Linked DNA regions of Homo sapiens: regions 2, 3, 4 and 5 are each linked to region 1. Evidence: fine-mapped expression QTL. A gene starts in region 1. Each other region holds a variant in brackets. All regions are shown on one strand. Distances are from middle to middle.

Region 1 (5,102 bases):
GCGATCTCGGCTCACTGCAGGCTCCGCCTCCCGGGTTCACGCCATTCTCCTGCCTCAGCCTTTTGAGTAGCTGGGACTACAGGTGCCCGCCACCGCGCCCGGCTAATTTTTTGTATTTTTAGTAGAGATGGGGTTTCACCGTGTTAGCCAGGATGGTCTCGATCTCCTGACCTCGTGATCCGCCCACCTCGGCCTCCCAAAGTGCTGGGATTACAGGCGTGAGCCACCGCGCCCAGCCTATGACTTCTGAACGCTCTAAGTGTAAGCAGAAATAAACACCAGCTGGTTGTTAATGTTATCTTTAGTCATTTAAAAAGAATTTGCAAGACAAAATTCCAAATCAATTTTCTTACCTAGTGATGGGGCTCAAGCTGAAGACGGCTATCTGTCGATGCAGAAGCAGGCAGGCTTGCCTTCCTTGATGAAGCGAGTGGGAACTCCCAAAAAAGGAGTTTTTTAACAGCAAATAAACCTCAGACCCCCCACCGAAAAACGTTGGAAGATCAGGGATCCCTGGAGGAACAAGGTCCCAGATTTCAGCAATCATCCTACCAGTTTGGGCAATAAGGTGCCAAGCCAATACCGAGGATCAATAGGCGAACTGCTGCAGGCCGGGTTACCTTCACTGAGGATCTCTCAGTGCTTATCAATGTCAATCGAGAAAAATGACAAGTCTTAATCATTTCAGGAGGCTTATTTCCCAAAGTTAAGGACGCCCATGACACAGCCTCCGGAGATCCTGACGACGTGGGTCCAAGGTGGTCGGGGCACAGCTTGGTTGTATTCATTTTAGGGAGTCACGAGATATCAATCATATGTATAATAACAGGCCGGACAGGGCGCGGTGTCTCACGCCTGTAATCCCAGCTCTTTGGGAGACAGAGGCGGGCGGATCACGAGGTCAGGAGATTGAGACCATCCTGGCTAACATGGTGAAACCCGTCACTACTAAAAAATACAAAAAAAAAAAAAAAATTTGACGGGCGTGGCGGCGGGCGCCTGTAGTCCCAGCTACACGGGAGGCTGCGGTAGGAAAATGGCGTGAACCCGGGAGGCGGAGCTTGCAGTGAGCGGAGATGGTGCCACTGCACTCCAGGCTGGGCGACAGAGCGAGACTCCGTCTCAAAAACAAACCAACAAAAAAAAAACAGGCCGGGCGCGGTGGCTCATGCCTGTAAATCCCAGCACTCTGGGAGGCCGAGGCGGGCGGATCACGAGGTCAGGAGTTCAAGAACAGCCTGACCAACATGGTGAAACCCCGTCTCAACTAAAAATACAAAAATTAGCCGTGCGTGGTGGCACGCACCTGTAATCCCAGCTACTCAGGAGGCTGAGGCAGGAGAATTGCTTGAACCCGGGAGGCAGAGGTTGCAGTGATCTGAGATCACGCCACTGCATTCCAGCCTGGGCGACAGAGTGAGATTTCATCTGAAAAGAAAAAGAAAAAAAAAAAAAAAAAAAAAAAAAGAAGGACATTGGTTCTGTCCAGAAAGGCGGGGGCAACTTGGAACAGGGAGGGGGCTTCCAGGTCACAGGTAGGTGACAGACAAATGGTTGCAGTTTCTGGGTTTCTGATAAGCCTCTCCAAAGGAGGCTATCAATATGCATTTATCTCAGTGAGCAGAGGAATGACTTTGAATAGAATGGGAGGCAGGTTTGTCCTGAGCAGTTCCGAGCTTGTCTTTTCCCTTAGTTTAGTAATTTTGGGGCCCCAAGATTTTCCTTTCAGAAAAAAGAAAATGTGGTATATATACACAATGGAGTACTATTCAGCTCTAATAAAAGAATGAAACCCTATCATTTGCCACAACACGGATAAACCTGAGGATATCATGTAAGCAAAATAAGACACAGAAAGACAAATACCTCATGATCTCACTCATGTGGCATCTTTAAAACGAAGTTAATCATTAAGATATTTACCAGTTGTCTGAGGTATTGGGTTGAATTTTCTTTTTTTTTTTTTTTTTGAGACGCAGTCTCGCTCTGTTGCCAGGCAGAAGTGCAGTGGCGCGATCTCGGCTCACTGCAACCTCCGCCTCCCAGGTTCAAGCGATTCTCCTGCCTCGGCCTCCCGAGTAGCTGGGACGACAGGCACCCGCCATCACGCCCCGCTAATTTTTTGTATTTTTAGTTGAGACGGGGTTTCACCATGTTGGCCAGGATAGTCTCGATCTCCTGACCTCGTGATCCGCCCGCCTCGGCCTCCCAAAGTACTGGGATTAAAGGCGTGAGCCACTGCACCCTGCCTTCCAAATTAAAAACTTTTTAAAACCTCGTACCTCGCCGTGGGCGGCGACCGTCGCGGACTCGCCGGGAAGACGGCCCCACGGAGCCGGGAACACCGCCCGCTGTTCGTATGTCCGAGGTGACGCCCCGCTGTGGCGGGCTGGCGGAAGTGACGCGCTGCTGTGGCGCGCCGGCGGACGTGACGCCACTGTCGCTGCGACGATAAGGCCTGGCGTTATTGCTTAGAGGCGGCTACCTGGAGCCGGAAGCGCGGCTGCAGCAGGGCGAGGCTCCAGGTGGGGTCGGTTCCGCATCCAGCCTAGCGTGTCCACGATGCGGCTGGGCTCCGGGACTTTCGCTACCTGTTGCGTAGCGATCGAGGTGCTAGGGATCGCGGTCTTCCTTCGGGGATTCTTCCCGGCTCCCGTTCGTTCCTCTGCCAGAGCGGAACACGGAGCGGAGCCCCCAGCGCCCGAACCCTCGGCTGGTACGGACCCCTCCCCGGCGTCTCCGCTCCCCTGACCCCACATCCCCTAGAAGACCTTTTTTCTGAGCCTCGCTGCTCGGATTTCTTCTCGGCGCTCCCCGGTGGTCTCTTCCATTATGGTCCCCACCTCAGAAATTTTTTTTAACCGCTCCAGCGTCTCTTTTCTGTATTCTTACAACTTTGTGGCAACCACCTCTACTGGCCCCACTTCGACCTTCCTTCCTGATCACCACAAAGTAAGCTGTGTCCATACCTGGGATCCAGCCTCTCCACTTCTACTCGTCCAGAGCTCCCGCCCCTTTCCTGAGCAGCCTTTGGGTCACTCCCCGTTATAGGCGCCCTTTTTGCCCCCTAGCACACAACAGATAAGACCCCTGCCGATCCCCTCGCGTTTTGGTCTCTTATATTCCTCCAAGATGTTTTCCCTGCCTAGGGGCTAAGGCCTCTCTGCGTTAGGCCTCTTCCTAGGCTTCACCTACCCAGCCATATACAGCAAGTAAAGGCGCCCTGGTTCTGGACCACTTGCACACATCGCCAGCCGCTGACCATGTAAACGCAGTATGTAAACGCCCAGCCATCCCGTAGCTGCAGCTCTGCGTTTTAGGTCAAGCTCCCTAAATGTCCCATTCCAGGACCCTTACGTAGGGATTCTCCTACCCCAGTACTCTTCACCATACTGAGGATAATTCACTGCTTGCTACTGTGGGTCCCTAAGATTACTCCTGTTAACCCCCGTCCTTTCCCCCCAGCACTACCTACCAAGTACAAGTCGCCTCCTTTTGGGTTGGGTTATGTAGATATCGCAGGGTATGTGCTGGAGAAGTAGGTAGAAGCTAGATTGTGAAGGTGCTTGATGCTAAGGAAAGTTTAGAGTTCAATTTCCTTTTTTTTCTTTCAAACACTTAGGAGCCAGTTCTAACTGGACCACGCTGCCACCACCTCTCTTCAGTAAAGTTGTTATTGTTCTGATAGATGCCTTGAGAGATGATTTTGTGTTTGGGTCAAAGGGTGTGAAATTTATGCCCTACACAACTTACCTTGTGGAAAAAGGAGCATCTCACAGTTTTGTGGCTGAAGCAAAGCCACCTACAGTTACTATGCCTCGAATCAAGGTAAGTTTGCCTTAATGTTTTATGAATCATGGTTTGGCTGTTTTGAAGATTTAGAGGGGGTCTCTGTAGTCTTTCGCTTGGAGTTGCAATTTTAAGAAAGTGGAAATTTTGTGCTGTCAGTTGGCTGGGGCAATAGAATGTTGAAGGAGCCTCACACGGGATGGAACTGAGACCCATCATTTGTGCCCCATGTCAAGTAGCCAAAGCTCATGCTTCATGGCAAATATAAAAGATTTAGAGCAAGATCATCCAGGCTAACCTACCCCAAGATATGCCATTCTTGGTGACCTGCTTTCTTCTTTAATCGTCACTGGGTCATTTACAATCTTAGAAGGAGCCTTTAGAGTTAATCTAGTTCAGTCTCTAGACTTTATAGATAGGAAAGCAAACTCAGATAAGTTAAATGTGACTTCTCCAAAATTATCCACCAGTATACATAATGATCAAATCAGTATGTTCCGGCCTCAACAATTACCACTGTTTCCACCATATCCTTCAGGTGTCCAGCCTACTGACAGCAGCTTTGAAGTACATAGTGCATTTCCCAAGAACCGTGGGTAAAGAAAAAAGTAAGCCTTTATTGATTGGCTCAAAACTTTTGAGCAACGACTATGTGGTGATACTTCAATGGGTATGCAATTGGGGAAAAAATAGTATCTCTGCCTTCATGTAGCTTTTAGTCTTTAGATATACAGCCACTCAACAAAGGAGCATATGAAAACATGCAGTTGTAAAGTGTGGTTAATGCATGATGAGAAAGAACAGGATGTGATGATTAGTGGGTGAGAAAGCCTGGCTGAGGAAATTGCATTTAAACTGAGACTGGAAGGATGAATAAAGGTGGGGACAGAAAGGAGCAGAGGGGTTGAAGTGTGTGAGTGTATCGCATGTGAGCGTGGCATAAAGTCTCTGACGGAGCCTTAGCTGTGTTGTTGATCATGTGAAACATTATTTGGTGAGAAGGAGCTACTTATTGATTTAAGGCTTGGGGGCAGCCCCATTTGCAGATGCTTGGCAGATGTTCACTGGATGAAAGCAGTCTGAGACTGAAGGAAGCACAGTGCCATATCACTCACTGACTTTTTCCTTGAATTTCTTACTCTCTCTGCCGCATTTCAATGTGATGTGACTTCCTTCAGCAATATTTATTGAGCATCTACTGTGTGCCACACTGTTCCAGACAGGAGGGAGGCAGTGAAGAACAAGACAGCATTGTCCTCATGGAGCTTACTTTCTAATTGGAGGGATAGAAAATCGGTAAAATATGAATCAAT
Region 2 (5,102 bases), 85 kb before region 1:
TTGAGCACTTCTGGCTTCCTTAGTTCTCATATAACTTTAGGATTGCTTCTTATAGTAATGCAAAAATGCATAGCTGCTGTCATCCAAAGTATACCACCTTTTTCTTCAGCACTCTGTGTCAGGGGAACCCATCTTTGACAGCCCCCTAAAAACCAAAAATGTGGACACATATTCTACATTTCTCTTTCTCTCCTGAGGAAGAAGCATAGAGTTGGGAGTTTCTCCTTGTTTTCACCATACTGTATTGGGAGGAGGTAAGGATGTACTGAGCATGTGTAATAACATTTTTCTTCTCTTCTACATGTTTTTGGCATTTTGCTAAAGTGAAGTAGTACATATTCTTAACTATGTTTTGGAATTCCCACAAAGGCGATGTAATCAATATGGTGCTAAGATCATTTATCTATGAAGAAATGAGGATCAGTGGTTTTTGTTCTTGCAGTTTAAATTGATATCTTTATTACTTTAATTTTTAATTTTTGTGAATGCACAGTAGCTATATATCTATGGGTTACATGAGATTTTTTTTTTTTTTTTGAGATGGACTCCTGCTCTGTCGTCCAGGCTGGAGTGCAGTGGCGCCATCTCGGCTCACTGCTAGCTCCGCCTCCCAGGTTCACCCCATTCTCCTACCTCAGCCTCTCTGAGTAGCTGGTACTACAGGCGCCCGCCACCACACCTGGCTAATTTTTTTGTATTTTTAGTAGAGACGGGGTTTCACTGTGGTCTTGATCGCCCGACCTTGTGATCCACCCGCCTCGGCCTCCCAAAGTGCTGGGATTACAAACGTGAGCCACTGTGCCCGGCCAACATGAGATTTCTAATGTAGGCAAGAAATGTATAAAAATCACATCAAGGTATAGGTATTCACTATCTCAAGTATTTGTCCTTTGTTTTACAAACAATCTGATTTCATTCTTTTAGTTATTTAAAAATGTATAGTTAATTTGCTTTTGACTATAGTCACTCTGTTATATGAGCAACTACTAAATCTTACTCTAATTTTTTTGAAACCATTAACTTTCCTCACTTCCTCCCAGACCTGTAGTATACTCTCCAGCCTCTGGTAACAATCCTCCTTCTAGTTTCATGAAATTAATTTAATTTTTAGCTCCAGCAAATGTGTGAGAACATGCAAAGTTTACTTTATATGCCTGGATTATATCTGTAAACATAACGACCTCGGCCGGGAGCGGTGGCTCACGCCTATAATCCCAGCACTTTGGGAGGCCGGGGCGGGCGGATCACGAGGTCAGGAGATCCAGACCATCCTGGCTAACATGGTGAAGCCCCGTCTCTACTAAAAATACAAAAAATTAGCCCGGCGTGGTGGTGGGCACCTGTAGTCCCAGCTACTTGGGAGGCTGAGGCGGGAGAATGGCGTGAGCGGAGATCGCGCCACTGCACTCCAGCCTGGGCAACAGAGTGAGACTCTGTCTCAAAAAAAAAAAAAAAAAAAAGCATAATGACCTCTAGTTCCATACTTGTTGTTGCAAATGACAGGATCTTATTCTTTTTTATGATTGAAAAATATTCCATTGTGTATATGTACCACATTTGCTTTATCCATTCATCTGTTGATAGACACTTAGGTTGCTTCTAAATCTTGGATAATGTGAACACTGATGCAATAAAAATGGTGGTATAAATATCTCTTTGATGTCCTGATTTCTTTTATGTACCTACTTAGGAGTGGGATTGCTGGATAATATAGTAGCTCTATTTTTCATTTTTTGAGGAACCTCTAAACTGTTCTCCATAGTGGTTGTACTAATTTACATTCCCACCAAGAGAGCACTAGAGTTCACTTTTCCCAACATCCTCATCAGCATTTGTTATTGCCTGACTTGGATTAGAGCCATTGTAATTGGAGTAAGATAATATCTCATTGTCATTTTGATTGCATTTCTCTGATAATAAATGATCTTGAGCACCTTGTCATGTGTCTTTTTGTCATTTGTATGCCCTCTTTTCAGAAATGTCTATTCAAATTTTTGCCCATTTATAATCAGATTATTCAATTTTATCCTATAGAGCTGTTTGTGCGCACTATGTATTCTCGTTTTTTTTTTTTTTTCTGATGGGCAGTTTACACATTTTTTCTCATTTTATGTGTTGTCTTTTTGTTAATTGTTTCATTTGCTCTTTAGAAGCACTTTAACTTGATGGGATTCCATTAGTTCATTTTTGCTTTGGTTGCCTGTGCTTGTGGGGTATTACTAAAGACATCTTTGCCCAGTTTAATTTCCTGTAGAGTTTCAGCAATGTTTTCTTGTAGGAGTTTCGTAGTTTGAGATCTTAGATTTGTCTCTAATCCATTTTGATTTAATTTTTTTATATGACAAGAGATGTTGTCTAGTTTCATTCTTCTGAATATGGATATTCAGTTTTTTTAGCACAATTTATTGAAGACTCCTTTCCCCAGTATATATTCTTGACACCTTTGTCAAAAATAAGTTGGTTGTAGATATGTGGATATGTCTCTGCATTCTCTCTACTGTTTCACTGATCAGTTTCATGCTGTTTTAATTACTGTAGCTCTGTAGTATCATTTAAAGTCAAATACTATGATTCCTCCAGTTTATTTTTCTTACAATGGCTTTCGCTATTCTGATTCTTTTGTGGTTCTGTCTACATTGTAGGATTGTTTTTTCTATTTCTGGGAAGAATGTCATTGATGTTTTTCTAGAGGTTGTGTTAAGTCTGTAGATTGCTTTGGGTAGTATGGACATTTAAAAAATGTTGATTCATCCTATCCATAAACATAAAATATTATTCAGTTTTTTGTCTTCTTAAATTTCTTGCATCAGTGTTTTATAGTACTCATTGTAGAGATTTTTCATTTCTTTAATTTCTAGGTATTTAATTTGAATTTGTTGCTATTGTAAATGGGATTAGTTGATTTCTTTTTCACATTGTTCACTGTTAGCATGTAGAAACACTACTAATTTTTAAATCTTAAATCTTCACTAAATTCATCAATTCTAATCATGTTTTAGT[GA/G]ATTTGGTTTTTCCAAATATAAGACCACATCATCTGCAAACAAAGATAATTTGGCTTCTTCCTTTCCAGTTTGGATGGCCTTTATTGTTTTCTCTTGTCTCATTGCTCTAGCTAGCACTTCTAGTACTATGTTGAATAATAGTGGTAAAAGTGTGCATCCTTTGTGCCTCTTCTTTTTTCTTCTTCAGATACAGACACTTTATCAGAACGATTTGGGGTTTAGGTTCCCAACTCTAGAAGGTAATTTGTCCTCAGCCATCCTGTTGTCTTGTCCTGGTCCTAGGCTTCAGAACTGTCTGGGGAAGATCCCAGATGCCCACGGTAGCCATGTGTCTTCGAGTGCTTAGGGCATAACAGTTACTGAATCATCTCCTCATAGTGGACGGCCTCAGGTGTGGGGTGGACCCTCTCGGAAGCAGCTGGGTGACCTGGTGCTCAGAGCACTCTTGTGGTTTACGCTTCATTCAAAAAGCCACATCCTTGTGGCATTAAGATTTTCTTTCTCCCAGTCCAGTTTCCATTTTTTGGAATCACATTGCTGCTCAGCCAATGGAATGCTGATACTGAGGGGAAAGGCAGAAATAATTTCTACCATCTGGATTTTTTCAGAATTGTGAAGGGAGAAGAATATAGTATCCCCAGAGACAAAGTCCATTCTAGCAAGATGGTGCATGGACCTGCACCCACACACACAAACACACACACACACACACACACACACAAAACACCACTCCAGGCACACATGGGGATGCAGTGCAGAGGCTCTTGGGAGGGTGGTCATTGAGTACTTCAGTGAGAAGGATAAAGGTGTGAGGATGTACATCACACGACAGACAGCCCAACTTGACACTTGAGTCAGACATATCATTATTCCAGCCAGTACTGCCACTCCTTGGGTTTGTCATCTTGAAAAAAATGTTTATTTATTTCAACTTCCATTTTATTAACTGTACAATGCATTTTATTGGTAGAGTTTGAAAGATAGGAGAATATTCTCAAAGAGGCATAAATATGTAAACTTAAAAAATGTCTAATGGTATATTTGTTAAAAATTCTTTCGTTTTCCCTTGACACGTGTAATAAGTTTTTCAGATCTGTATATTTTGGGAGTGGTTTCAAACAGAACCTCAGGGCCTAGTTATGGGAATATTACTGGGTTAAAAAAAGTAGGAAACATTTCTCTTCCTCTATGGCTGCAGAGAACTGAATGCATTTTTAGAAGAAATTTTGGTAGATAAATTGGTGATTTAGAGATGTGCCAAAATATCAGTTTCTCTTTTCTGCGTGGTGGGGAATTTGTAGTAATGAATAAGTCTGCTCTGTATGCTGTTATCTGGATGTCTGAATTTAATGTTAAATTTTATGGAATAGGACTTGACATTCCTGGTTAATGTTCATGTATGATTTCCTATTTGTTGTTATGGAAATAATACCTAAATGATTATTGTCTGAAATTGATATATATTTTGGTTTTTCTTGTTGAAGTATAAAATGTAAGTGCCTTACAATCTCCTTTCCTCCTATAAACATAAGCAATGAGTTTGAGGAATTTTGCTGGTTTCTTTAAACACCGAGTTCTTTTATATAAAACTAAGTGAATAATCTTGACTGGGAATCAGAGACCTAAGACTGTTGACTGCAAGGTAAGGCCAATCTTGACCCTGCCAAAGGAGGTCATCAGTAGCCCGGTAGTTTCTTCCTGGGAACATTTTCTGCAGGTGTCCCAGCCTGGCTCAAATTAGACATGAAAGGAGCCTTTATACTGAGAAGCTACAGAGCCCTGGAAAGCTGAGGATCCACAGGCAGATGCAGTGAGAGTTGGGATGGGAGGAGGGTTGTGATGTCCTCTGAGAGGGTGTAATTGTTATTGTCATCGGGCTGTTTCTAGATATCATCAAATAAAATAAATTCTGATGTAGGTAAGAAGTGACTTTATTTTAAGGAGTATTGCAATGGAAAAAGCACTAAGCACAAGATCTGCAAGCACCTCCAAAATGAGACAGATAAGGGTGATTTTTCATATGGAGGATCAAACGATTAGAAGGAAGATGGGAGGGAGAAGGCAGAATGGAGAATGAGAATGGCAAAATCAGATTCAAGA
Region 3 (5,102 bases), 24 kb after region 1:
AAGTGAGTGTGGTCCCGGCAGAGGCTCACGCATCAGCCAGCTCGGGAAAGAAAGAACATCAGCTGTGCCGTGAGCAGCATGGCACTGTGGTTTAAAAGAGGTTGCCATAGCAGAGGGGCAGGGCTCCATCCAGAGGCAGGGCATCCATGCGCCCAGCAGAGCTCACCCTTGTGAGCAGAGAGGGCTGGAAGCTCTCTTTCCAAAGAGGTTGTAAGGAAGTAACCCAGGCTGCAGAACGGGGGACGTTAGAGGTCGGGAAGGGCCAGTCTGCACTGGGGAAGTGGGTGTGGCAGAGAAGGGTCAGGCCGCTGCCTGCCCAGTCCCCATACAGTGCTGTAAGGGTTAGAAAGACTCTAAAACCTGACTGTTGACATAATGCATTTCAGGATTGTTTTTATATTGCACGTTGACAAGAAGGAGAGAGTGGAAAGAGACAGAACAGGGAGAAGGAAGTAAGAGCGATGAGGGAGGCAGAGAAGGAGGCCAGGCAGCACAGGGGTCAGTCACTGCCATCCGCGGGTGTATGCCAAGGACCAAGGCCTGCATCGCCAGAGGGCAGATGGATGCACATTGGCAGCTTTCCCAGCTTTACAGAAGGCGTTGCAGACCCCCCACCCAAAGGAATGATTGATCTTCATTAAGCGTCAGTTGTGAAAAGTGAAGGCTTTGCCGTGTGCCATGCATAACCGAATACTTTGAGATTATGTATATAAATGTATGTTCACGGTGTGTGTGCGCGCCTGTAACCTTTCTGTCTTCTTAATAGATCCTGGGTTTGAGCAGTTTAAAATGTCAGAAAGATTGCATGGGAACTGGATCAGACTGTACTTGGAGGAAAAGCATTCAGAAGTCCTATTCAACCTGGGCTCCAAGGTTCTCAGGCAGTACCTGGATGCTCTGAAGACGCTGAGCTTGTCCCTGAGTGCACAAGTGGCCCAGTACGACATCTATTCGATGATGGTGGGGACTGTCGTGGTTTTGGAGGTACAGATGCTCACACAGTCATGGCTCAGGTGTTGCATTGATTTGATAACTCAGCCAAATATTTATAGTTTTAAATATATATATAGGTGTTATTAAAAATGGGAAAATATTAATTTTCTTGTTTAACTCTTTCGTGGTGTGTCCTGATTTGTGACAAGACCCAGAGTATTGTCAGTGTCAATTGGCCTCACTCAGTATTGCTGCAGGTGATAAAAAAAAATCATGCCATGCATTTTGGGGCAGTTAATTAGGAATCATCTTTTCCTGAGCTTGCTTTTCTGTTTTTACTGTGTGGACAGCTGACACGAGAGCGGGAGCTGGGCTTATTTTTAAGTGGGTTTCTCCAAGCCCAGCAGTCTGTGGATGCTGCTGTTTCTCTGTTCCAGGTTCTCACCCTGCTCCTGCTCAGCGTCCCACAGGCACTGCGCAGAAAGGCTGAGCTGGAAGTCCCACTGTCATCTCCTGGGTTTTCTCTGCTCTTTTATTTGGTGATCCTGGTTCTTTCGGCCGTTCACGTCATTGTGTGCACCTCAGCTGAAAGTTCGTGCTACTTCTGTGGCCTCTCGTGGCTGGCGGCAGGTGGGGTGATGGTGCTGGCCTCGGCGCTGCTGTGTGTGATTGTGTCTGTTCTGACCAACGTGCTCGTGGGTGGAAACACCCCAAGGAAGGTACGTACGGCTGGTTCCTGGGAGTGTGACGTAGTCCTTCTGCTCAGGTTGTTCTTGTTATTTCAGGCTGCCTTTCGTTTACCAGACTCTGGTTGAACACCTGGTGTGTGCCACGTGCTGGCAGTGCCCTGGACAGGGGGCCTCAGGGAAGGACGTGGAGCAGCCTTATCCCAGGCCTCTGGGTGTCCCGACACAGGTGTTCACATCTGTGCTGTCAGGTCAGATGCCTCAGTTCTTGGAAAGCTAGGTTCCTGCGACTGTTACCAAGGTGATTGTAAAGAGCTGGCGGTCACAGAGGAACAAGCCCCCCCGCTGAGGGGGTGTGTGAATCGGACAGCCTCCCAGCAGAGGTGTGGGAGCTGCAGCTGAGGGAAGAAGAGACAATCGGCCTGGACACTCAGGAGGGTCAAAAGGAGACTTGGTCGCACCACTCATCCTGCCACCCCCAGAATGCATCCTGCCTCATCAGGTCCAGATTTCTTTCCAAGGCGGACGTTTTCTGTTGGAATTCTTAGTCCTTGGCCTCGGACACCTTCATTCGTTAGCTGGGGAGTGGTGGTGAGGCAGTGAGGAAGAGGCGGATGGTCACACTCAGATCCACAGAGCCCAGGATCAAGGGACCCACTGCAGTGGCAGCAGGACTGTTGGGCCCCCACCCCAACCCTGCGCAGCCCTCATCCCCTCTTGGCTTGAGCCGTCAGAGGCCCTGTGCTGAGTGTCTGACCGAGACACTCACAGCTTTGTCATCAGGGCACAGGCTTCCTCGGAGCCAGGATGATCTGTGCCACGCTTGCACCTCGGGCCCATCTGGGCTCATGCTCTCTCTCCTGCTATTGAATTAGTACCTAGCTGCACGCAGTATGTAGTTACCAAAAGAATAAACGGCAATAATTGAGTCCTCATCTTTACTTTTGACTGCTTTAAGTTAGTATATTTAAGAGACAGTACTGTGATGCCAACTTTGTCATTTCAACAGAATTAACCATTTTAGTGGAAACGTTCTGGATTTCTAGAATATTCCTGGAGAAATTTGAG[G/A]TCTGGTTTGGTGGGATGTATTGTTGAGGTTCTTTGGTTTCAAGAAGCAGGCACTGGCGACGTGCATCTGAAGACCTAAGCTCTTCCAGAGCCTGGAAGCGGGAGCGTGGAGGGCCGGGTCCAGGAGCCTTTGGGCAAGCTCTCTGGGCTGCACCACTGCCCAGAGGGTTCTGACCATTTTCAGTCTTTGTCACTCACCTTGGGACTTGGAGTCCAGTGTGAGAACAGCTGGCTGGCCGTGCAGTGTCCGGCTCCCCTGCCTGGGCTGAGGGCGTCTCCACTCCTGCAGGCTGCGTCCCAAGAGGAAGGTTCCTGCCGTTGGAGCAGAAGGGGGCTGTTCCAGAGTAGGGGCCCAGGTGCTGGGTGTGAGGAACAATGGTGTGTGTCCAGGGCATTCTCTGCTGTGAGCAAGGACTTGACATGCAGCAAGATGTGTGTCGTTATCAGACCGTCTCTTACAAAGTGCACTTTCCTTTTCACAGAACCCCATGCATCCCAGCTCAAGGTGGTCAGAGCTAGACCTTCTTATTCTGTTGGGGACGGCGGGCCACGTCTTGAGCCTGGGCGCCAGCAGCTTCGTGGAGGAGGAGCACCAGACCTGGTACTTCCTTGTGAACACCCTGTGTCTAGCTCTGAGCCAAGAAACCTACAGAAACTACTTTCTGGGAGATGACGGTGAGCCTCCGTGTGGCCTCTGTGTGGAACAAGGGCATGACGGGGCCACAGCAGCGTGGCAGGACGGGCCTGGCTGTGATGTCCTGGAGCGAGACAAAGGCCACGGAAGCCCCTCTACCTCCGAAGTGCTCAGAGGCCGCGAGAAGTGGATGGTGCTGGCCAGTCCGTGGCTAATACTGGCCTGCTGCCGGCTGCTGCGCTCCCTAAACCAGACAGGTGTGCAGTGGGCTCACCGGCCTGACCTCGGCCACTGGCTCACCAGGTGAGAGCGTAGGCCCGTGGCCACAGGCCAGACTTTCTACGGCCGATTGGTCACCTGCCAAGCTCTTCTTTTTCTAAATTGAGACCATTTTTCATATTAAGAATGGGATAGTATTTGAGATCTGAAGAATTGGGAAAATACACTAAAACCAGTGTTTTACTGGATACTAGAATCAATGTTGAGAAGTGAATTTATTTGGGGGCTAGCCTAACAGGTTTCATTTATTAGTGCTGAACCACTGTAACTGTTCATGATTGAAAACTTGTGTTTCAGTGATCATTATATAGTAAAGATGCTATGTGGGGGTCAAGCTTGCTAGTGGCTTGTTCTGGACGCCTCGTCCATGCCTGGGCTGTGTGCCCCCCGCCCATCACTCAGTGTCTGCCTGTGTCAGGCCATTCGTGTGTTGCTATAAAGAAACACCTGAGGCCGGGTCACATGTAAGGAAAGAGGTTCATCTTGGCTCTCAGCTCTGCGGGCTGCACAGGAGGCATGGTGTCGGCATCTGCTCCTGGAGAGGCCTCAGGAAACTGGCGGTCATGGCGAGGGCAAAGCAGGAGCCAGCACTTCACGTGGCGAGAGCAGGAGAAAGAGAGGGATGAGGAGGGTGTCCGGCACTTTTAAACATCAGCTCTCTTGTGAACAGCCACAGCGAGAATGCGCTCATTACTGCGAAGATGGCACCAAGCCATTCGTGAGGAATCTGCCCCCATGACCCAGACGTCTCCCACAAGGCTCACTTCCAACACTGGAGGTTCAGTGTCTTTTTTTTTTTTCTGAAACGGAGTTTCACTCTGTCACCCATGCTGGAGTGCAGTGGCACGATCTTGGCTTACTGCAATCAAGAGATTCTCCTGTCTCAGCCCCCTGAGTAGCTGGGATTACAGGCGCCCGCTACCATGCCTGGCTAATTTTTGTGTTTTTAGTGGAGATGGGGTGTCACCATGTTGGCTGGGCTGGCCTTGAACTCCTGACCTCAAGTGATCCACCCACCTCGGCCTCCCAAAGTGCTGGGATTACAGGCGTGAGCCACTGTGCCCAGCCTGAAGGTCCAAGTTCAATATGAGATTTGCAGTGGACAAACATCTAAGCCATGTCATTCCCCCAGACCCCTATCCTGCTGCTGATGATCCCCAGGGCAGCAAGAAGGACGGGGTCAGCCAGGCAAGGCAGGCGCAGCCTCTGTGGGCCAGCTTTGCCCTTAGCAAAGCTCCTTTCTCCTCCCCATCCTCCCTTTTCTCTCTCCTCATCCTGAAGGGACAGAGCCGTGTGGGGGAATTCAGCCACCTCCTGAGCCTTTCATTGGCGACTGGAAAACCACCTAGAAAGTATAGCAAATCATTTCAAGCAAGGCTCGAAATAAGTAGAAGAAACCAGGACAGAAAAATAACTAAGATTTGCCGAGACTTAAATTTTAATTGTCTGGCAGTGAAGACTTAGGAAACTAAAGCAAAAGAAGCAGCACAATGAGAGCATCT
Region 4 (5,102 bases), 32 kb after region 1:
GACTCTGCCCGGCCAGGGGAGGAGGAGGAGGACCCACCAAAGGCCCTGGATGATGCCCCTCCTGCTCATCACCCTGCCTGCCCTAGCATCCTCTCGACACAGAAACCAGTCCCTTTTCTTCTATGAAACTTCTCCAGTGATTGTGACCTTTGCTGATTTCTCCCTTCTTTGAATGCAGATGGGCCTATAATTCACTCTTAACTTAGCACACACCTTGGCCTGTGGGGGTTGCCAGGTACCTGACCCCAGCTCCTCAGCCAGGATGTGGGCCCCTCCTGGCAGCCACACTGCCAGGCACATGGTATACAGTGCTCAGGCTGTTTGAACTAAACTGATCAAAGTTTACTTTCTTAATGTAAAAGCTTTCTAAGAAAATCTAATATAGGAAAATTCAGTTTTCACAATATTATGATATTAAAAATTACGATTATTTTAAATGATCAGATTTGTAGGCTGTGTGAAGCATTTCATTTACAAAATTTATTTAAAATATTATGTTTTAGGAACATACGTGTTTTGTAAGATGAAATTTTTTGGTAATTGTATCCTTTACAGATAACTATCATAAGAGTACTTAATTTTACTGAGCTTACTGTGTGCCAAGCACTCCCTGCATTCCCTTGCTTAATTCCTAGGATGACTTTGTGAAGTGTAGAACCATTTTCTCTCCATTTCACAAATAGCAAAGCTGAGGGTCAGAAGTCTTGATTGACACGCCCGAGTAGGAGAGCTAGTGAGCAGAGCAGCAGGGCTCGGACTGAGCAGAGCTCTGCCTTTTCTCAGAGCCCGCGGGTTGGATGACTGCACCACTGCACGCGTGTGTGCCTGTGAATGTGCAGGTGCTTATTTACCTATAACTGCATGTATGTGTACCTGTAAATGTGCAAATCCTTCTTTAAATCTGCTCAGTTGTGCAATGAACATTTATGAACTTACAGCAGTTTCTTAGAGTTGACTCTTATACTAGTGCGTTGGGTTTTTTTTAATTAACTGCAAAGCAGGCGGGCCACGAGGGCACCGCTTGGGTCGTGCCACCAGATGAGCCAAATGAGCAAGATCTCCCCGAAGCCAGCCCCAGCGGAAGAGTCTGCACGAGGACACACCTGTGGGCCTGTGGCGGCGGCTCCTCAGGGCTGCTGTGCGGAGGAGACATGCCCACTGCCATGACAGGACCTGGGGGGTAGGGAGGGTGCCGCGGCTCCTTTAGTCAGCAGTGCTGGACATTTACTGGTTCCCTGGGTAGATAGGTGTGTTTTTCATGGGAAAATGTTTTTGAATTTTTCTCACTGGTGCTAATGAATCTAACTTGTTTTGCTCTTTTTTAGGGGTATTATTGAAGCTCGTTTTGTTTATGTCTTTGTCCTTGGCATTCTGTTCACGGGCACCAAAGACTTACTTAAATCTCAAGTCATTGCTGCAGACTTCAAACTCAAGACTGTAGGTTTATGGGAGATATATAGTGGATTAGTTCTTCTGGCAGCCTTGCTCTTTAGACCACATAATCTTCCGGTCTTAGCATTTAGCCTCTTGATTCAGACTCTAATGACTAAATTCATCTGGAAGCCCCTGAGACACGATGCAGCTGAGATTACTGTGATGCATTATTGGTTTGGTCAAGCATTCTTCTATTTTCAGGTAGGTTTTCATTATTATCATGGGTAGTAGACTTCATGTTTTACATATTTATTTTAAATTTTTCTTTGAGAAAATGTTCCCATAAGTTGGAAAGTGACTGTCAGTGTGGCATGGTGAATTACGCTGAACTCTCGTGTATTTTATAAGACAAAGTACAGCCGGTTGTTTAAGACACGCGTCCCAGGTGTGGATGTGTGGGTGCTTAAGACAGCAGACTGCTGCTTTGCTGGGCCAGGCCTGGGTTTATTTATTACAAGCAGTTCAGGAAGCACAGACATCACGTTGTTCACTTGCTTCACTGATGAATGTAATAATTGTTCTCGTTCATGCCCTTTGCCCCTGGTGTCGGGGCTGTCCACACTGGGGACCATTGGTGCCCCCATGATTATTAGCTCCCTGAAGCCTGGTGGGTCGTCAGGGCTTCTGTCCGGTGTTTAAAGACCCATCCCAGACAAGCCCAAACCACCTCAGTTTGAAGAGACATAGAGGGACAGGCAGACGGGGCCTCAGAGGGATCCAGCCTCATCCAGCCTCCCGGCAACCTCAGGAGAGCAGGCCAGATGGGGCCTCAGAGGGATCCAGCCTCATCCAGCCTCCCGGCAACCTCAG[G/GCTGGTTCCCTTCC]AGAGCAGGCACAGCCCTGCTGGTTCCCTTCCAGTGCCGACTCCCAGGCTGAGTCGCTTTGCAGCAGCTGAACGTCGTGGTTGCATTTTGGTCTCTACCGTGAGGTCTGTATTTTCTTGGTGTGCACCGGTGTCTGCCTGTCCGCTGTCTCGTACCCAGGAGGCATGTGCAGTTCTTTGTGTCCCTACAGGGCCTCTCTTCCATCCTCTTCTCCTTTCCTGGTGCTCCCAGCCTTTCCCATGGAACAGCCCACAGTTGCAGGATTTTCTGTCTTTATGTCTGTCCCCCTGATCCTGAAGCCCAAAGGTGGTAGGCGTGAAGTTACAGAAGTCTGTGTCTTCAGGTACAATGAGTAGGTGGCCAATGGCCAGCTTCTTAGCCCCGTCCTGGTGCTTCCCCGACCCTTCTGATCCGCTCAGGCCCCTGTCCTCCTCGTACACAGCTGCAGCTCTCCCTGCCATGTCCACGCAAGGCACAAGGGTGTCCCCAGCAGAACTGCAGGCCTGGATGCTGGTATCCAGCACGTTCAAGCCAGGTGGCCTCCGGCAGGCTCTTGCCACACCTTCGTTTCCTTATCTGTAAACCAGGGATAGTGGTCTCCCGGCCTCCCCAGGACCCAGCCCTCCCTGGTCTCCCCACCTCCCCGTGGCCCCTGTTTTGAGGCTGAGTCCGCTGCCCCTCAGTGTTAGATCTCCTCTGAGAGGAACCTGTGGCTTTGCTGCCCATCCCTACTTCCTGCCCTCGACTGGGCAGTTCCTTAACAGATCAGGGATCAGGAACATGACTGCCCTTGCTCATCTGCTGGCCCTCCACATTTGCCCAGTCCCTGGGTCTCTCTGCCTCCGTTTCCTCCCTGTTTGATGAGGATAATCACGAAGCACATCAGGACTGTTGGGTTAGATGAAGTCATGCAGGTAAAGCTGCTGTGCAGCTGCAGACATGTCAGCATGGCTGGCAGTCTCTGTGCTTGGCTGAGCCTGCTCAGAGCCACAGTGACCTCCTAGGTGTCCTCCTCCCCTGCTCCCATCGTGGCATCTGGGACTCTGTCCCCCTGCCACCCTCCAGGGTCTCCTACTGCTTCTGCCTGTTTGCTCTCTCCTCAGTCTCCCTGCAGAAGAGCTTCCAAGTGGAGGAGACACATGACTGGGGTGGCACCGTCCAAGAGAGGCAGTAGCTGCGAGTCCAGTGGGTCTCAGGGCAAGCCAAGTCAAAGGGCTGGGGCCTAAGACAACAGGGATAGGAGTCAATGCACATCTGTGAGATAATGGGGAAGCAGCATCAACATGACTTGGGGACCCCCTGGGCCCACAGCTCTCTGCATGGAAAGGGAGGAAGGAGCCAAGCTGGTGAGCACCCAGCCAGTGTTTTGTGGACATGAACAGTTCTGGTTCTGGAGAGGGATCTTCGTTGAGCTTGATAGAGACATGTGCTGTCGGACTGTAGATGTCATGAGTTTCTGAGGAAAGGTCAGCATGACAGGCAAGTGACAGACATCAGAGTCAGTAAAGATGGAGCGTGGGGAGGCGGGGCCTGGGAGCAGAGAGGAGGGGCCTAGGAATGGAGAGGTGGGGCCTAGGAGTGGAAGGGTGTGGTCTTGGAGTGGAGAGGCGGGGCCTGGGAGCAGAGAGGAGGGGCCTAGGAATGGAGAGGTAGGGCCTAGGAGTGGAAAGGTGTGGTCTTGGAGTGGAGAGGCGGGGCCTGCGCAGAGAGGCAGGGTCTCTCAGAAGACCCCTTTTTGGGATCCAGAATCACTAGGAGCAGGGTAAGCTGTGTGGCATCAGCGCTTGCATCCTGCAGGGAGTTACCTACCAGGGCTGGGCCGGGACTGGCCAGAACCTTGACAGATGAAGTTTGACCAGACCAAGTGAGTCCTCATGGTCTGATACGTAAGCCAGATGTGAGTTACCAATTTGCACCAGGGGCTGTGCTCCCCCAGTGGCTGGCCTGCCCTCCACCATATAACCCACTGGCAGCACCTCACCGTAGATGGGACCTGGCTGGGTGCCCGTTCTAGTCTTCAGCCCAGCTCCCCGCTTGGCTGGGCCCAGCAGCTGGCCTCTCAGGGCCCTATGCGCCCCTCGGATGGGGGTCCTTGAGGGGAGCTTCATGTGCTTGTCTTAAGTCGATGGGTCTGGACAAGGGTCTTAGATGTGGCACAGTCAGCCAGCCGGTCTGTGTGTGCGTCCCTCTTCAGAGGGGGCCCCAGCTTCTGCACGGTCCGCTCACGTGCCCTTCCGCAGCCTGGGCACTGCAGGCAGGGGGAGGGGGTGCCACCTAGGCAAGGCCAGCTCGGCAGTCTGAAGGAACGGCTGGGCAGCCACCTCTGACCACACGTGTGTCCGTGCCGGCGTGGTTATCTGGGCTGCCTACACAGTTCACGCTAACATCGTGGCTCACGCTAACATCGTGGCTGTTGATGCCACGTGTTGTGAGGCCTTTGTCAGCTCTTCTCCTGTATTCCAGGGCAACTCCAACAACATTGCCACCGTGGACATCTCCGCAGGCTTCGTGGGCTTAGACACCTACGTGGAAATCCCAGCCGTGCTCCTGACAGCGTTTGGGACGTACGCAGGGCCTGTGCTGTGGGCCAGCCACTTAGTGCACTTCCTGAGCTCAGAAACACGCAGGTGAGGCGCCTCTCTGCCGTCAGCACAGTTCTGGGGGCCGGCTGCCTGGTTTTAAGGGTCGTACTTTGTTCCAGATGCAAGGGGGTCTAAGCTCCATGGGTCCAACAGTCTTTTCAACAGTTTTCTTTTCCTTAAATAGGGAACGGTCCAAAGCTCAAGGGCCAGAAGCCGGCCTGAGGTGTCCGTGTAGGGCCAGGGTCGGGTCTGACGGGGCCTCGCCGGGCTCCCCAG
Region 5 (5,102 bases), 39 kb after region 1:
GTCGGGGGAGCATTGGCCTTGCTTCAGCAGTGATAGGCGCGTGCCTTCCCACAGCGGACATGGAGCCTTTCCAAGGGGAGAATCGCTCCCTGGCCAGACTGCAAGCTTCCCGGGGACAGGAATGCCTGAGATCCACCTGCCTTTTCTTCAGGTGCCTGTGGACGCTTGACACGCCCACTTTGGGGCAGTCTGTGGACAGACCCCCGTAATTTACAGTCACCGCTGAGCTTGTCATCACAGCAGAAAGCTGAGGCTCTGCGGGCGGAAGCCACCAACAGACCAGCTTGGGAGACACCCACTGTGGCGGCGCTGTGTGGAGACGTCCTTCCAGACTTCGATTCTGCATAAAAACAAACATCTGCCACGAGACCCCTGCTCGGCGTCCGCCTGTCTCAGCAGCTGCCCTGGGACGTCTTTCTCTGACTTGGTTTTGAGGCCAGCCGCGTGCTCACACTGGCCTTACAGAAACAGGAGACGCCGTCCTCGGCCGTCTGGGGTGGGCTGTCAGCACGTCGTGTGGTCAGGTGTCAGGACAAGCGGGCGTGAGCGCGTGGAGGTGCATCTGCCTCTGCCCTGGAGAACGGATGTGCTACAGCTGTGCGCGGCGTGATCAAGCACCTGTTGGGTGGACGGCACACCTCCCAGTGGCCAGCTGGAGACGGAGGGCTGGAAGTACTTGCCCGGCTCCTCTCTCTGTAGGTTTGGTCTTCGGCCTTGCAGCTGCCCTGGTGCTTGCAGATTGCGGTTTGATGGACCAGGCACTTTTCATCTCTTACACAGCCAGGCACGTTTGTGTTTGGGAGGGAAAAAGACAAATATTAAGTGAGGTGAAAGCATTTTGATCAACTGGAGAGTATCATGATATTTTTCCTAGTCAAGAAGCATTTCTCCTTCATTTTATAGGGTTTTCTTCTTCCCTTTTAAAAGTTTAAAGCATCAAGTTTTACTCATGGTTTCTATTTTGTTTCAGTAGAGTAGGAAAACTATAACCAGGTCTAAATTGTAGACAGAGAAAATATGTTTCCAAAAGGTCAAAAACGTGGCCTTGAGTGGTTGGCGACCCTCTGTTCCAGGGGCTGGCACCCCGGGCTGCCTGCTCCCCTGCAGCGCAAATGGCTCTTTGCTAAAGTGGTGGGAACAGCAAGCCGCCATCTTCTAGGTGGGTAACGCTATAAAGTGTTAAACTGAAGTCAAGGTGGTGCCATGTCTAAGCCACAGCTTCCCCATGCGCTGTCTGGGTAGGATGGGGCCACGGCCCACTTAGCCACGAATCTTCCTGCCCAGTATGTTCACCTTTTCCTGGGTGTTGCTGTCACCAGGAGGTGTATTGAGGATACCTTGGGGTCCACCTCCCTGTGGGGTCCCCGGCCTGTGGGGCTGGATACCAAGTGGTGACCAGCGGTACGGGTTTGGGGGACCCGCCTAAGGAGCCAGGGCCTGGCAAGGAAAGCAGTGAAAGGACCAGAGGCACCGGCCACCCACCGGGAGATCCCAGGGTCTGAGTATTTTACTGGAGCACATGGCGGGCTGAGGTGAAGGAGTGTTTGGAGAAGCCAAGAGGAGGATGGGCCCCTCCAAGGCCTGAGATGGGGAGCCGGTGGGGGGCTGAGGTGAGGCTGTGGAGGGGCCAGAGACAGCCCCGTCCTTGGCCCTTCGTGGCTGTTGACACCCTTTCCTGAGCAGTGAGCACTGAAGCAGGAGCCACTTACAGGACACCCTCAAGTAATACCTGGTGGAGCTGCTGGGCTGACAGGACTGAGGAGCCCTTTACAGGACATGCATGTGGGGCCCAGACACACATACGTGCCGACAGGACTGAGGAGCCCTTTACAGGACATGCAGCGGGACCCACACACCCACACACACGTGCTGACAGGACCGAGGGGCCCTTTACAGGACATGCAGCGGGACCCACACACCCAGACACACACACGTGCCGACAGGACTGAGGATCTGGGGGCTGCCTCCGGGCCCTTTCTAACAGAACTTGATCAGAGGTCATGGATGAGGCATGGAAAGTGCCCAAATAATGTAATTTATCATTTTTCAATAATCACAGACTCAGGGAAGTTGCTTTGAGGAAGAGATTTATGTAGTGTGTTGGTGGTTTCAAAACTAGGGGGTACATTAACATACTTCGAGGGGTGGCTCTTATTCCGAGAATTTGCTCAGCAAACCCCGCTGGGCCAGTGTCCCCAGACCAGAC[A/G]GTCCTCCACACCACAGCAGGGAGAAAAGCTCAGAACTTGTATTTATGTTTATTTGTATCTCACCCTTTTGTGATTTTCTATTCATCGTTTGTATTTTATAATGCATGTGATATAGTAGCACATGCATATATAATTTTTAAATAACTGCAAAGTCTGGGGGGTGCGTTTTTCAGAGCTGTTTTACAGATGACGGTGGCAGACAGTGGCTGAGCAGTTGGGGCTGCAGCTCATGTCCCCTCGGGCACCTCCGTGCCTTCTGGAGACTCAGACCTCTGCCCACCCCAGACCAACCACATCCAGATTTCTGTAGGGGGGGCTCCAGAGTGGCACTTCCAGCACATACTGTAGGTGATTTTTACATACAGTCAAGTTTCAGAAGCATTTCTGGAGAGCTCAAGGTGTGTGTGGGGGGGGACATGGTGGCCCTCACCCATCCTTCTGTTTGCTTCATTTTTCTTCATGAATTTGTCTCTTCCTGACATGTTACATATCTGGTTTCTCCTGCCTCCTTCACTAGAACACAGCCTCCAAGGGGGCAGGTTGGGTTTTCCCGTCTCCAGCGCATCTGGAGAGGCACCTGTCCCAGCACCATAGTGACTGGATGTGTGTGCAGAAGAAGGAACGCGGTGCCCTCTACTCCAAGGGCAAGAGCTACTGGAGTCTTTTTGAAAATAAAAGTGTTGTTACATGTGTGATATGTAAGTGGCATGTGCTAATACACATTTTCTTTCTTATTAACAGTGGTTCAGCACTGAGTCATGCTTGCTTCTGCTACGCACTGATTTGTTCTATTCCAGTTTTCACGTACATCGTTTTGGTGACATCTCTGCGTTATCATTTATTTATATGGAGTGTATTTTCTCCAAAACTTCTCTACGAGGGAATGCACCTGCTCATTACAGCTGCTGTCTGTGTATTCTTCACGGCAATGGATCAAACCAGACTCACACAGTCTTAGACTAAGCTGAACACTGGAAAAATAATACATGCTTAAAGTCTGCTGTTATTCTAAAATGAAAGATATGAATTCAACAAAGTTGATGGATAACTTTCTTTGACTGCTCTACCTGAATTTAGACTAAGCAGTAAATAGTTTAATAAAAGATCACTTTAATATACAGTTTGTATCATATTTTCCCCCATTGACAATCACTCTAGAAGCTTCTGAACTTTTAATTTCCTCTGAATAAGCTATGGTGTGACCCAAATATGTGTGTTTAAATCAATGAATGAAAAGGTTCTGGACTTTGTTAGAGTCCAGGAGCTCTGTGGGAGGAGGCACCCAGATTACCTTAGGGAGCACAGAGCTCTTAGAATCCTACAAACCACTGAGGGCCCCAAGGCGCTTTGGTTTATGAGGGTTACATGTATCAGTGTTTATGGCATTTGAGATGAAAACTAAGATAAAAAAGTATTCATTTATAAGGAATCTATTGCATATTAATGAAACACTTGAAGGAAAAGTAACTATATTTTCCAAAACAAAAAAATTCAGTGAGACCCAGCACTTTGGGAGGCCAGAGTGGGGGTATCACTTGAGCCCAGGTGTTTGAGATCAGCCTGGGAAACATAGTGAGACCCTCATCTCTCCAAAAACTTCAAAAAATTAGCTGGGCGTGATGGCACACACCTGTGGTCCCAGCTACTCAGGTGGCTGAGGAAAGAGTATTGTTTCAGCCGAGTTCAAGGCTGCAGTGAGCCATGATTGTACCACTGTACTCCAGCCAGGACAACAGAGTGAGACTCTTGTCTTTAAAATGAAAAAATAAATGTTTAATGAGAAAAGTGATAATGTTTTACATTTTTACAAACCTCTTTAATGCCTGGCCTAATTGAAGCTAGTTGGATTTTGTGTTTGACCTGTTGTGATATGTGTGTTTGGTTACAATATAAGAAGAAAATCGGCTGGGCAGAGTGGCTCACACCTGTAATCTCAGCACTTTGGGAGGCTGAGGCGGGGGCAGATCACCTGAGGTCAGGAGTTCAAGACCAGCCTGGCCAACATGGTGAAACCCTGTCTCTACAAAAATACAAAAATTAGCCAGGCATGATGACAGGTGCCTGTAATCCCAGCTACTTGGGAGGCTGAGGTGGAAGAATCGCTTGAACCAGGGAGGCAGAGGTTGCAGTGAGACAAGATTGTGCCATTGCACTCCAGCCTGGGTGACAGAGTGAGACTCCATCTCAAAAAATAATAATTATTATATATATATGAAGAAAATCCAGCCTCAGATCAGTAGTTGGAAAGAGGAGGCATATTTTAATGTCCTTTTTCTGATTATTGTGGATGTTCTTTTTTGATACCAACACCAAATCTTTTTTGATGCCAACACCAAAACTCAACAAATGTTAGTTTGCTGAAGGTTAGTTGGACAAAAAGAAAAGAAACGAGTGCATATAAAAACTGGTGAAATGCTACTGAGGGCTGTATTCGAATTAATAGAATTGTGCCCACATCATTTTCCTGGTATTTATCTGGTTGTGTAAGATACCATCATTGGGGGGAGGTGGGTGAAGGATATGTAGAACTCTCTATACTATTTTTGCAACTTCTTGTGAGTCTTCAACTATTTCAAAACAAAAGTTATTTTGAAAAAGAAAAGGTTAGCTGCCATGTGGAATCTGAAATCATATCAATGAACTTTCATGTCCTGATGCATTACGACACATTGACCTGTCTTGCACCCTGAATGGAACTTTTACCCAGATGTGATTCTTAACATCTGCATTGTTGTTTGGAAAATAACAGTTCACTGGATGATAGAAATTTCCAAATGTTGTTCATTATTCCATACCAAAATCACTTATTTATATCACAACCGAGCTCATCAGAAAAGTCTTTAAAGAGTGAATGGTGGCTCACGCTTGTAATCCCAGCACTTTGGGAGGTTGGGG

Which allele goes with the higher level. Positions count from the first base shown, and alleles are read on the strand shown. Sizes are in standard deviations (SD) of each study's normalised expression. Not every link is listed here.
In carriers of allele A in region 5, the expression in aorta of the gene that starts at base 2,437 in region 1 tends to be lower than with G alone (moderate effect, 0.42 SD a copy in GTEx).

The links. PIP is the estimated chance that this variant, and not a neighbour inherited with it, causes the effect. A credible set is the group of variants that fine-mapping cannot tell apart.
Region 2: its variant is the best candidate, but not a certain one, in a credible set for the expression of PIGG in whole blood (TOPMed, PIP 0.87).
Region 3: its variant is the best candidate, but not a certain one, in a credible set for the expression of PIGG in lung (TOPMed, PIP 0.68).
Region 4: its variant is the best candidate, but not a certain one, in a credible set for the expression of PIGG in whole blood (INTERVAL, PIP 0.83).
Region 5: its variant is the best candidate, but not a certain one, in a credible set for the expression of PIGG in aorta (GTEx, PIP 0.81).

What each region holds. Positions count from the first base shown.
Region 1 is chr4:496,774-501,875 of GRCh38, forward strand. PIGG (phosphatidylinositol glycan anchor biosynthesis class G (EMM blood group)) reads left to right here and starts at 2,437. Exons shown (of 13, transcript NM_001127178.3): 1 at 2,437-2,716; 2 at 3,623-3,828. The coding sequence starts at 2,563. It overlaps ZNF721 (zinc finger protein 721), which reads right to left and starts at 2,383. Exons shown (of 3, transcript NM_133474.4): 1 at 2,283-2,383. RefSeq lists enhancers at 1,669-2,534, 2,098-2,577, 2,535-3,398.
Region 2 is chr4:412,223-417,324 of GRCh38, forward strand. No RefSeq gene overlaps it. Among named protein-coding and RNA genes, the nearest start is that of MIR571, 65 kb to the left of the region's middle. The variant GA/G (reference allele first, on the strand shown) is at 3,001.
Region 3 is chr4:520,290-525,391 of GRCh38, forward strand. It overlaps PIGG (phosphatidylinositol glycan anchor biosynthesis class G (EMM blood group)), which reads left to right. Exons shown (of 13, transcript NM_001127178.3): 7 at 767-984; 8 at 1,371-1,652; 9 at 3,170-3,624. Among named protein-coding and RNA genes, the nearest start is that of PIGG, 24 kb to the left of the region's middle. The variant G/A (reference allele first, on the strand shown) is at 2,688.
Region 4 is chr4:529,111-534,212 of GRCh38, forward strand. PIGG (phosphatidylinositol glycan anchor biosynthesis class G (EMM blood group)) reads left to right here. Exons shown (of 13, transcript NM_001127178.3): 11 at 1,326-1,635; 12 at 4,708-4,871. Among named protein-coding and RNA genes, the nearest start is that of PIGG, 32 kb to the left of the region's middle. The variant G/GCTGGTTCCCTTCC (reference allele first, on the strand shown) is at 2,245.
Region 5 is chr4:536,205-541,306 of GRCh38, forward strand. PIGG (phosphatidylinositol glycan anchor biosynthesis class G (EMM blood group)) reads left to right here. Exons shown (of 13, transcript NM_001127178.3): 13 at 2,949-3,996. The coding sequence ends at 3,165. Among named protein-coding and RNA genes, the nearest start is that of TMEM271, 38 kb to the right of the region's middle. The variant A/G (reference allele first, on the strand shown) is at 2,207.